Linked DNA regions of Homo sapiens: region 1 is linked to region 2. A link means that fine-mapping ties the variant in region 2 to the expression of a gene that starts in the linked region. Tissue or cell type: whole blood. Region 2 holds a variant in brackets; the other region holds the start of a gene. All regions are shown on one strand. Distances are from middle to middle. Region 1 holds the start of MTAP (methylthioadenosine phosphorylase). Region 2 overlaps MTAP (methylthioadenosine phosphorylase).

The links. PIP is the estimated chance that this variant, and not a neighbour inherited with it, causes the effect.
Region 1: MTAP starts here. The variant in region 2 is fine-mapped to the expression of MTAP in whole blood (TOPMed, PIP 0.98).

What each region holds. Positions count from the first base shown.
Region 1 is chr9:21,800,795-21,805,034 of GRCh38, reverse strand. It overlaps MTAP (methylthioadenosine phosphorylase), which reads right to left and starts at 2,399. Exons shown (of 8, transcript NM_002451.4): 1 at 2,254-2,399. The coding sequence starts at 2,286. RefSeq lists enhancers at 1,557-1,766, 2,261-2,889, 2,890-3,520 and a silencer at 2,057-2,216.
Region 2 is chr9:21,842,090-21,846,329 of GRCh38, reverse strand. The region is part of intron 5 of MTAP (methylthioadenosine phosphorylase); the gene reads right to left. Among named protein-coding and RNA genes, the nearest start is that of MTAP, 42 kb to the right of the region's middle. The variant G/T (reference allele first, on the strand shown) is at 2,503.

The sequences.
Region 1 (4,240 bases), 41 kb after region 2:
GGTGTGCAGTGGGCACTGGAGGCAGCCTGCTTTCTGCATACCCTCTGCCTCCCTCTTCAAGATGGACATTCTATCAAGTGCTCATTTTAATTGTGCATTAGGTCACAAGAAAACAGGGCAGAGACCACACTTCAGATTTCAGAAATGCCTCACATCTAGTTGGTGGAATGCCAGGCTCTAGGCCCAATTCTGTCATTATCTAGGTCCAGCTGTGTAATTCTGGATACTTAGCTGACCTTTCTGGGCCTCAACTTTACACCCGCAAAACGGGTTTGTGTGGCTATATGGATGGTCTTGAAGGAACACTCCAGCCCCATCATTCTATAATTTGGGAATAGGATGTGGTTTTTATTAACCTATTTTGCTCTGGACACTGGCACCTCACATCTTCTATACAGAATGTTGCCTTAGAAGTCTGGGGAATACGGTGCTGGCATCATGGAATCTCTACGGCAAAGCTGTCATCTGTTCTAAATTAAAAGAGAAATCAGCAGGCAGTCCTAGCACCATATGTACCTCTTAATTTTATATCCAGAAGCTTGCCAAGACCAAAAATACACACTATTCAATATTTACATCAGGTCTCTGAGAATCCCATTGCCCATTCTGCACTTAAATGCACTGCATTAATTTGAAGGGAAACCCTGTGGCAGGGAGAATGCTAACCAGATTAAAGTAAGACTGTTTTAAACACCATTTCTCCATTTTTAATGGCGCTTGAAGTGTATTCCTGCAAGGATAAGGTGAAAAGTTGTGGCCTAATGATACCTAACACAATAACTTAATAATTTTTGGGGAAAAGATCATTCAAAATTAATCTCAGTTCCCCCACTTATAAGCACTACCACTTAATAAGCTTCTACCATGTGCAACATAGACAATATAATTCTAGCCCTCCTAGCAAATTCTGCAGTAAAATTCTCAGTTTATAGATGAGCACCTAAGAGAAGTCACATACTTCACACGAGTTTCATGAAAACCATTTCTGCCTTGTTTCCGCCAAACAATGAAGGCAGGGGAGAGGCCTTCTATAAATATTTGCTGGATGCAAGATTCTTTTCAAAATGACAAAATAAGTTTCATATATAAGTCTGGATGCAACACCCTTCACCATTCCTCTCATTCTAAGTGGCTCATTTAAACCTGCAAGGGCGTAATAAACTAATCTGGCTGATTACACACTGACCGCAGAAATTCGCCTTCTCCCGGGAAAACTGCAGTCGAGTGTAGGGAATCGAGATGCTTTGGAGAAGATCGCAGACCTTCCTATCCCATAGGCCAAAAATTTCTAAAAATCAAACAAGAACGCATTCTTAGCCAGTAATAAACTGCCTAGAAGAGGTCTTAAGTTTTATCATCAATTTTTCTTTACGTGCTGTAATTCTCTCTCGGAATACTAACCAGGAGAGAAGTGTTTAAAACCCCAGGGAAGCCAGCTGCTACTCTCAGAACTCGTGCCCTCCTCAGCACAAAGCTTCCCACCGCACAATGACCCCTTGTATCAAGGCCTCTCAGGGCCTAGGGCACAAGGAAATTGAACTCTAACTTGCAAGGCTGCAAAACAAAGCAGTTTCAAGCCAGAGGCCTCCAAACAGTGCAGCCCTAAAAACGGACGCCTGTACTCCTTTTCGAAGAAAGTCTCAGAATTCTTACAGTATTACGCTGCTGGGGAAAACTTCAGCGCGGAGAAGGCCTACGTTTGGAGGAAAAAGAAGCCGGAAGCATACAAAAGAGCAAGTAAGCAGTTCTCCCACGTGGGCCGCAGGCAACAAGCAGAGTCAGAGAGCGGAAGCTGGAGTCCCGCAAGGCACCAGGAGACGGTCACAGAAGCTGCAGGCGCCCGGACACCTCCTGACTCCAGCCGGGTGTCTTTCTTGGAAGAAGAGTGGTTCTCAGGAATGGTGGTGGCATGGGTGCAGCCTCTCCCATCCACGACCTCTCTCTCTAAAGGGGTGCCTACGCCCTACAGGGTGCGGGTGCAGATAAGCCAAAAGGTGGTGTGTGTGTGTGTGTGTGTGTGTGTGTGTGTGTGTGTGTGTGTGTGTGTGTTGGCGGTGCGGCAGGGGGATCATTTGCAAGCGTACCCTCTCCTCGCGCGGCAAGTGAGTCCCGAGTGCCGCGCCCCAGTCCCTCCCCGCGGCGGCAAGGGACGCACGGGCCGGGCGCATGGCCCCCGGAGGCGCGGTCCCCCGGCGCGGGGGCGAGAAGGCATCCGGCAGGGCGAACCGCTGCGGCTGGGAGGGCTCATCTCACCTTCACGGCGGTGGTGGTGGTGCCAGAGGCCATGTCTGCACGGGAAAGGAATCTGCAGTGGGCGAGCGCTCGGGACTAAGGGAACCAAGCGAGCCACAGAGCGGTGGCTGTGCCAACCTCACTGCGCGGGAGTGAGCAGTGCGGAGACCAGGGGCGGGCCTTGACTCCTCCTCTTCCTCCCCGGGACAGCTGGATTGGCTGCTTGTGTGGGATCTCCCCCGCCACCCCTTCCCCAAATCGAAGTTCCCGCGTTCCGCCCCTTTTGCAGACCTTTCCGGTTCTCCAGGTTTTTGTCGTTTTTTTTTTTTTTTTATCCCCAGTTATAACTAACGGATAATGATAATAATGGAGACCATTTATAGAGCGCTGTATTGTTCCAGACTGTGTGTTTTGCACTTTAATTGGCTTACTTAACTTTCGCTAAAACCTTATAAGGAAGAGCAGCACTCCCTGCTTGGCCCAATATTAGTGGCGTCGGAGGCCTCAGCTGCAAAATCTGGCCCGGCGGCATTCCAGAAGTTCTCGCGGGAGGGAGAATCCTCACCAAGGCGGGTACTGGCCGGCCACGGAGATTCTCTTAGGCAGCTAACGCGGGGCGGCCGCCGCGGCGGGGGCAAGATTTGTCCTTCCTGCGGCTGCGAACCCACCGCGGGTTTGCGTATTTCCCTTGATTCCTGGAGGACAGAGCTGGGATGGACTTGACCCAAGACTCAGGGATGACGAAAGGGAAATAAACAGAGTAACGTAGTACTGGATAATCTTTCTGATTTACGAACTATGATTTACTCATCTTCAATTTGAGGGGCCGCTTTTAGGGGGTTGAGACCTTGCACAACTCCCAGTCTGGCTCTACCTGGCTGGGGGCATCTTTAACCCGTTCTACGCCGGAGCGGCATCGAATACACCTGGATTCAGAATCCAAACTCAGGTCTCCGTCATTCAACACTAGCAGGACGCACACACACACACACCACGAGCCCTTTACAGGGATAATCCCTCATGCTTACAGCCCCCGTCCCTTCCCTACTGGGGTAATCCAATTTAACCTTCCTTGATGGATTAAGCGTTCTGAAACAAAATAATGGGTGGCAAGGATCTTAAGGGTGGACTCTGAGATGTAGAAATGCTGCAAATTAGCCTGGACGTGGGAGGAGGGCCGAGAAAGGGGATGCTTTCCTCTTTCCTTACAGCAGCAAAACACGGAAACAAAACACAAGTACAATTTAATTCAAAATACCACTGTGTGATGTTAGCCTGGATGCTGCTCATAGAACCTATTTACTTAAACAGTATAGACTTTCGTCCTCACATTACTATAAGCTTTAGGTCTAAATTTTCTCACAATGTAAAGTTTTCTTTCTTCTGTTACAATCATCTATTTCTTTTAAGTTATAAAATGCAATGGCAAAAGAAGAATGAAAGTAGAATCCGGGTGCTCCTTTGAGGAATAGGAGACAGGGAATCCTTCGCGGATGAAGACAATGTAGCTTTCTAGGGGCCTTTCTGCCGATTGCTCTATTGAGGAGCAGGAAGCCCACCACTCAGAAGTGAACCATTGAGGGCACAGGGATGCCCTAGGCTTTATGGCCGCTACCTAAGTAGGGGATCCTAGCCAACTTAAGTGACTTGATATGGTTAACAAGTCCAGTTTCTACTCAGCACTGCCTCTCTGCTAAAAGTTAGACGTTGTAACCAAGTTAGATCCTGTAAGCATAAAATACCCCTAGGCATAGGAGTTGGAAACTTGGCGAGGACCAGGCTGGACTTCTGGACTTTTCTACTATAACTTGCAGGTTAGGGCTCAAGCATTTGCTCTTGAAGATGTGATGTCTGTGAAGAGGAAATTCTTCTAAAGTTTGAATTTCATGTAAACTTACATGTGACAAAATATTATTCTACTTTTGATATTTTCTCAACCACTTAAGATTGTAAAAAAGCATTCTCAGTTCAAAGCTGTACAAAAACAGGTGGAGAGCTGGGTTTGGTC
Region 2 (4,240 bases):
GGTGGTCATTTATTCCACTGATTATTATTTTTTGTTGTTGTGCTGAAGCATTTTAGATGAATTAAGCTGCATCTATTTGTCTTAGTTTTTGTTGCATTTGCTTTTGGGTTGTTGATCATGAACTCTTTGCCTAAGCCAAGGCCTAGATAGGTTTTTCCGATGTTATTTTCTAGAATTTTTATGGTTTCAGGTCTTAGATTTAAGTCTTTGATGCATCTTGCATTGATTTTTATATGAGAGATGAAGATCCAGTTTCATTCTTCTACATCTGGCTTGCCAATTATCCTGCAACATTTGTTAAATAGGGTGTCCTTTCCTCAGTGTATGTTTTTGTTTTGCTTTTTCAAAGATCAGTTGGCTGTAAATATTTGGCTTTATTTCTGGATACTCTATTCTGTTCCACTGGTCTGCATGCCTACTTTTATACCAGTACCATGCTGTTTTGATAACTATAGCCTTGTAGTATAGTTTGATGTCAGGTAATGTGATACCTCCAGATTGTTCTTTTTGCTTAGTCTTGCTTTGGCTATATGGGCTCTTTTTTTGGTCTCACATAAATTTTAGGATTTTTTTTTTTATATTTCTGTGAACAATGATGGTGGTATTCTGAAGGAAACTGCATTGAATTTGTGGATTGCTTTTGGCAGAAATATGATACTTTTATATTTCTGTGAAGAATGATGGTGGTACTCTGAAGGAAACTGCATTGAATTTGTGGATTGCTTTTTGGCAGATTGCTTTTGTAAGAATTCTTAACAATATTAATTCTGCCCATCCCTGAGCATGGTATGTTTCCATTTTTTTGTATTATCTATAATTTCTTTCAGCAGTGTTCTGTAGTTCTCCTTGTAGAGATCTTTCATGTCCTTGGTTAGGCATTTTACTTTTTTTTTCCTGCAACTGTTGTAAAGCAGGTTGAGTTCTTGATTTGATTCTCAGCTTGGTTGCTGTTGGTCTATAAAAGTGCTATTGATTTGAGTATATTGATTTTGCATCTTGAAACTTTGCTGAATTCATTTATCTAGGAGCTTTTTGGATGAGTCTTTAGGGTTTTCTAGGTATACGATCATATCATTGGTGAACAGCAACAGTTTGACTTCCTCTTTACTGATTTTTTACCCTTTATTTCTTTCTCTTGTCTGATTGCTCTGGCTAGGACATCCTGTATTATGTTGAACAGAAGTGGTGAAAGTGGGAATCTTGTCTTGTTTCAGTTCTCAGAGGGAATGCTTTCAACTTTTCCCTGTTCAATATAACACTGGCTGTGGGTTTGTCATAGATGGCTTTTTTTTTTTTTTTGAGACGGAGTCTCGCTCTGTTGCCCAGGCTGGAGTGCAGTGGCGTGATCTCAGCTCACTGCAAGCTCCACCTCCCGGGTTCACGCCATTCACTGCCTCGGCCTCCCGAGTAGCTGGGACTACAGGCGCCCGCTACCATGCCCGGCTAATTTTTTTGTATTTTTAGTAGAGATGGGGTTTCACCGTGTTAGCCAGGATGGTCTCGATCTGACCTTGTGATCCGCCCGCCTTGGCCTCCCAAAGTGCTGGGATTACAGGTGTGAGCCACCGTGCCCAGCCCATAGATGGCTTTTATTACCTTGAGGTACGTCCCTTCTATGCCAATTTTGCTGAGGGTTTTAATTATAACTAGATGGAGGATTGTGTCAAATGCTTTTTCTGCATCTATTGAGATGACCATGTGATTTTTGTTTTAAATTATGTTTATGTGATGTATCACATTTATTGACTTGCCTATGTTAAACCATCCCTTCATCACTGGTATGAAACCCACTTGACCATGGTGTATTATCTTTTTCATATGCTGTTGGATTTGGTTAGCTAGTAATTTGTTGAGGATTTTTGCATCTACGTACATCAGGGATATTGGTCTGTAGTTGTCTTTTTTTATTATGTTCTTTTCTGATTTTGTAATTAGGGGGATACTGGCTTCACAGAATGAATTAGGAAGGATTCCTGCTTTCTCTGTCTTTTGGAATAGTTTCAGTAAGATTGGTACCAGTTCTTTGAATGTCTGATAGAATTCAGCTGTGAATCCCTCTGGTCTTGGATGTTTTCTTTGTTGGCAATTTTTTAAAATTACTGTTTCAATCTTCCTACTTGTTATTGGTCTGTTTAGGGTTTCCATTTCTTCCTGATTTAATTGGGGAGGGTGGTATATTTCCAAGAATTTACTCATCTCCTCTAGATTTTCTAGTTTGTGTGCATAAAGGTGTTCATAGTAGCCTTGAATAGTCTTTTGTATTCTGTGGTATTGGTTGTAATATCTCCTGTTTCATTTCTCATTGAGCTTATTTGGATCTTTTCTCTTCTTGGTTAATTTCACTAATGGTCTATCAATTTTAAATTTTCAAATATTTTTGTTTCATTTATCTTTTGTATTTTTTTGTTTCAATTTCATTTAGTTCTGCTCTGATCTCTGCTGTTTCTTTTCTTCTGCTAGGTTTGGGTTTGCTTTGTTCTTGTTTTTCTAGTTCCTTGAAGT[G/T]TGACCTTAGATTGTTGATTTGTCCTCCTTCAGACTTTTTGATGTAGGAATTTAATGCTATGAACTTTCCCATTAGCACCACTTTTTCTGTATCCCAGAGGTTTTGATAAGTTGTGTCACTATAATCATTCAGCTCAAAGAATATTTTAATTTCCATCTTGACTTTACTGTTGACCTAAAGATCATTCAGGAGCAGATTATTTCATTTCCAAGTATTTGTATAGTTTTGAGGATTCTTCTTGGAGTTAATTTCCAATTTTATTCCACTTTGATCTGAGAGAGTACTTGATATAATTTTGATTTTCAAATTTGTTGAGACTTGTTTTGTGGCATATGTTCTATTTTGGAGAATGTTCCATGTGCTGATGAAAAGAATGTATATTCTGCAGTTGTTGGGTATATATATTTGTTAAGTCCATTTGTTCTAGGTTATAGTTTAAGTCCATTGTTTCCTTGTTGACTTTCTGTCTTGAGGACCTGTCTAGTGCCGTCAGTGGAGTACTTAAGTGCCCCACTATTATTGTGTTACCATCTATGTCATTTCTTAGGCCTATTAGTAATTGTTTGATATATTTGGGAGCTCAAGTGTTAAGTGCATATATATTTAGAAATGTGATACTTTCCTGTTGGACTACTCCTTTTATCATTATATAATGTCCCTCTTTGCTTTAACTGTTGTTGTTTTAAAGTCTGTTCTTTTCTGATATAAAACTAGCTCCTCCTAATTGCTTTTGGTTTCCATTTGCATGGAATATCTTTTTCCACCCTTTTACCTTAAGTTTTTGTGAGTTCATGTGTGCTAGGTGATTCTCCTGAAGACTGCAGATACTTAGTTGGTAGATTTTTATCCATTCTGCCATTGCGTATCTTTTCTTAAGTGGGGCATTTAGGTCATTTACATTCGACATCAGTATTGGGATGTGAGGTACTGTTCTATTCATCATGCTAGCTTTTGCCTAAAGACGTTGTTCTTTCACCATTGTATTATTGTTTTATAGGTCTTGTGAGATTTACGCTTTAATGAGGTTCTATTTTGGTGTATTTTGAGGTTTTGTTTCAAGATTTAGAACTCCTTTAAGCATTTCTTGTAGTGTTGGCTCAATAGTGGCAAATTCTCTCAGCATTTGTTTGTCTGAAAAAGACTATCTCTCCTTCAATTATGAAGCTTAGTTTTACTGGATACAAAATTCTTGGCTGAGAATAATTTTGTTTCAAGAGGTTAAAAATGGGACTCCAATCCCTTCTGGCTTCTGGCTTGTAAGATTTCTGCTGAGAAGTCTGCTATTAATCTGATAGGTTTTCCTTTATAGGTTATCTGATGTTTTTGTCTCACAGTTCTTAAGATTCTTTCATCTTGACTTTAGATAGCCTGATAAATATGTGCCTAGCTGATCATCTTTTTGCAATAAATTTCCCAGGTGTTCTTTGAGCTTCTTGTATTTGGATGTCTAGATCTGTAGCAAGGCCAGCAAAGTTTTCCTCAAATAAGTTTTCCAAACTTTCAGATTTCTCTTCTTCTGCAGGAACACCAATTATTCTTAGGTTTGGCCATTTAACATAAACCCAAATTTCTTTTAAAATTTCATTTTAAAATTCTTTTTCTTTGTCTTGATTCAGTTAATTCAAGAGCCTTGTCTTCAAGCTCTGAAGTTCTTTCTTCTACTTGTTCTAGCCTATTGTTGAAGCTTTCCACTACATTTTGTATTTCTCTAAGTGTGTCTTTCATTTCCTGAAGCTG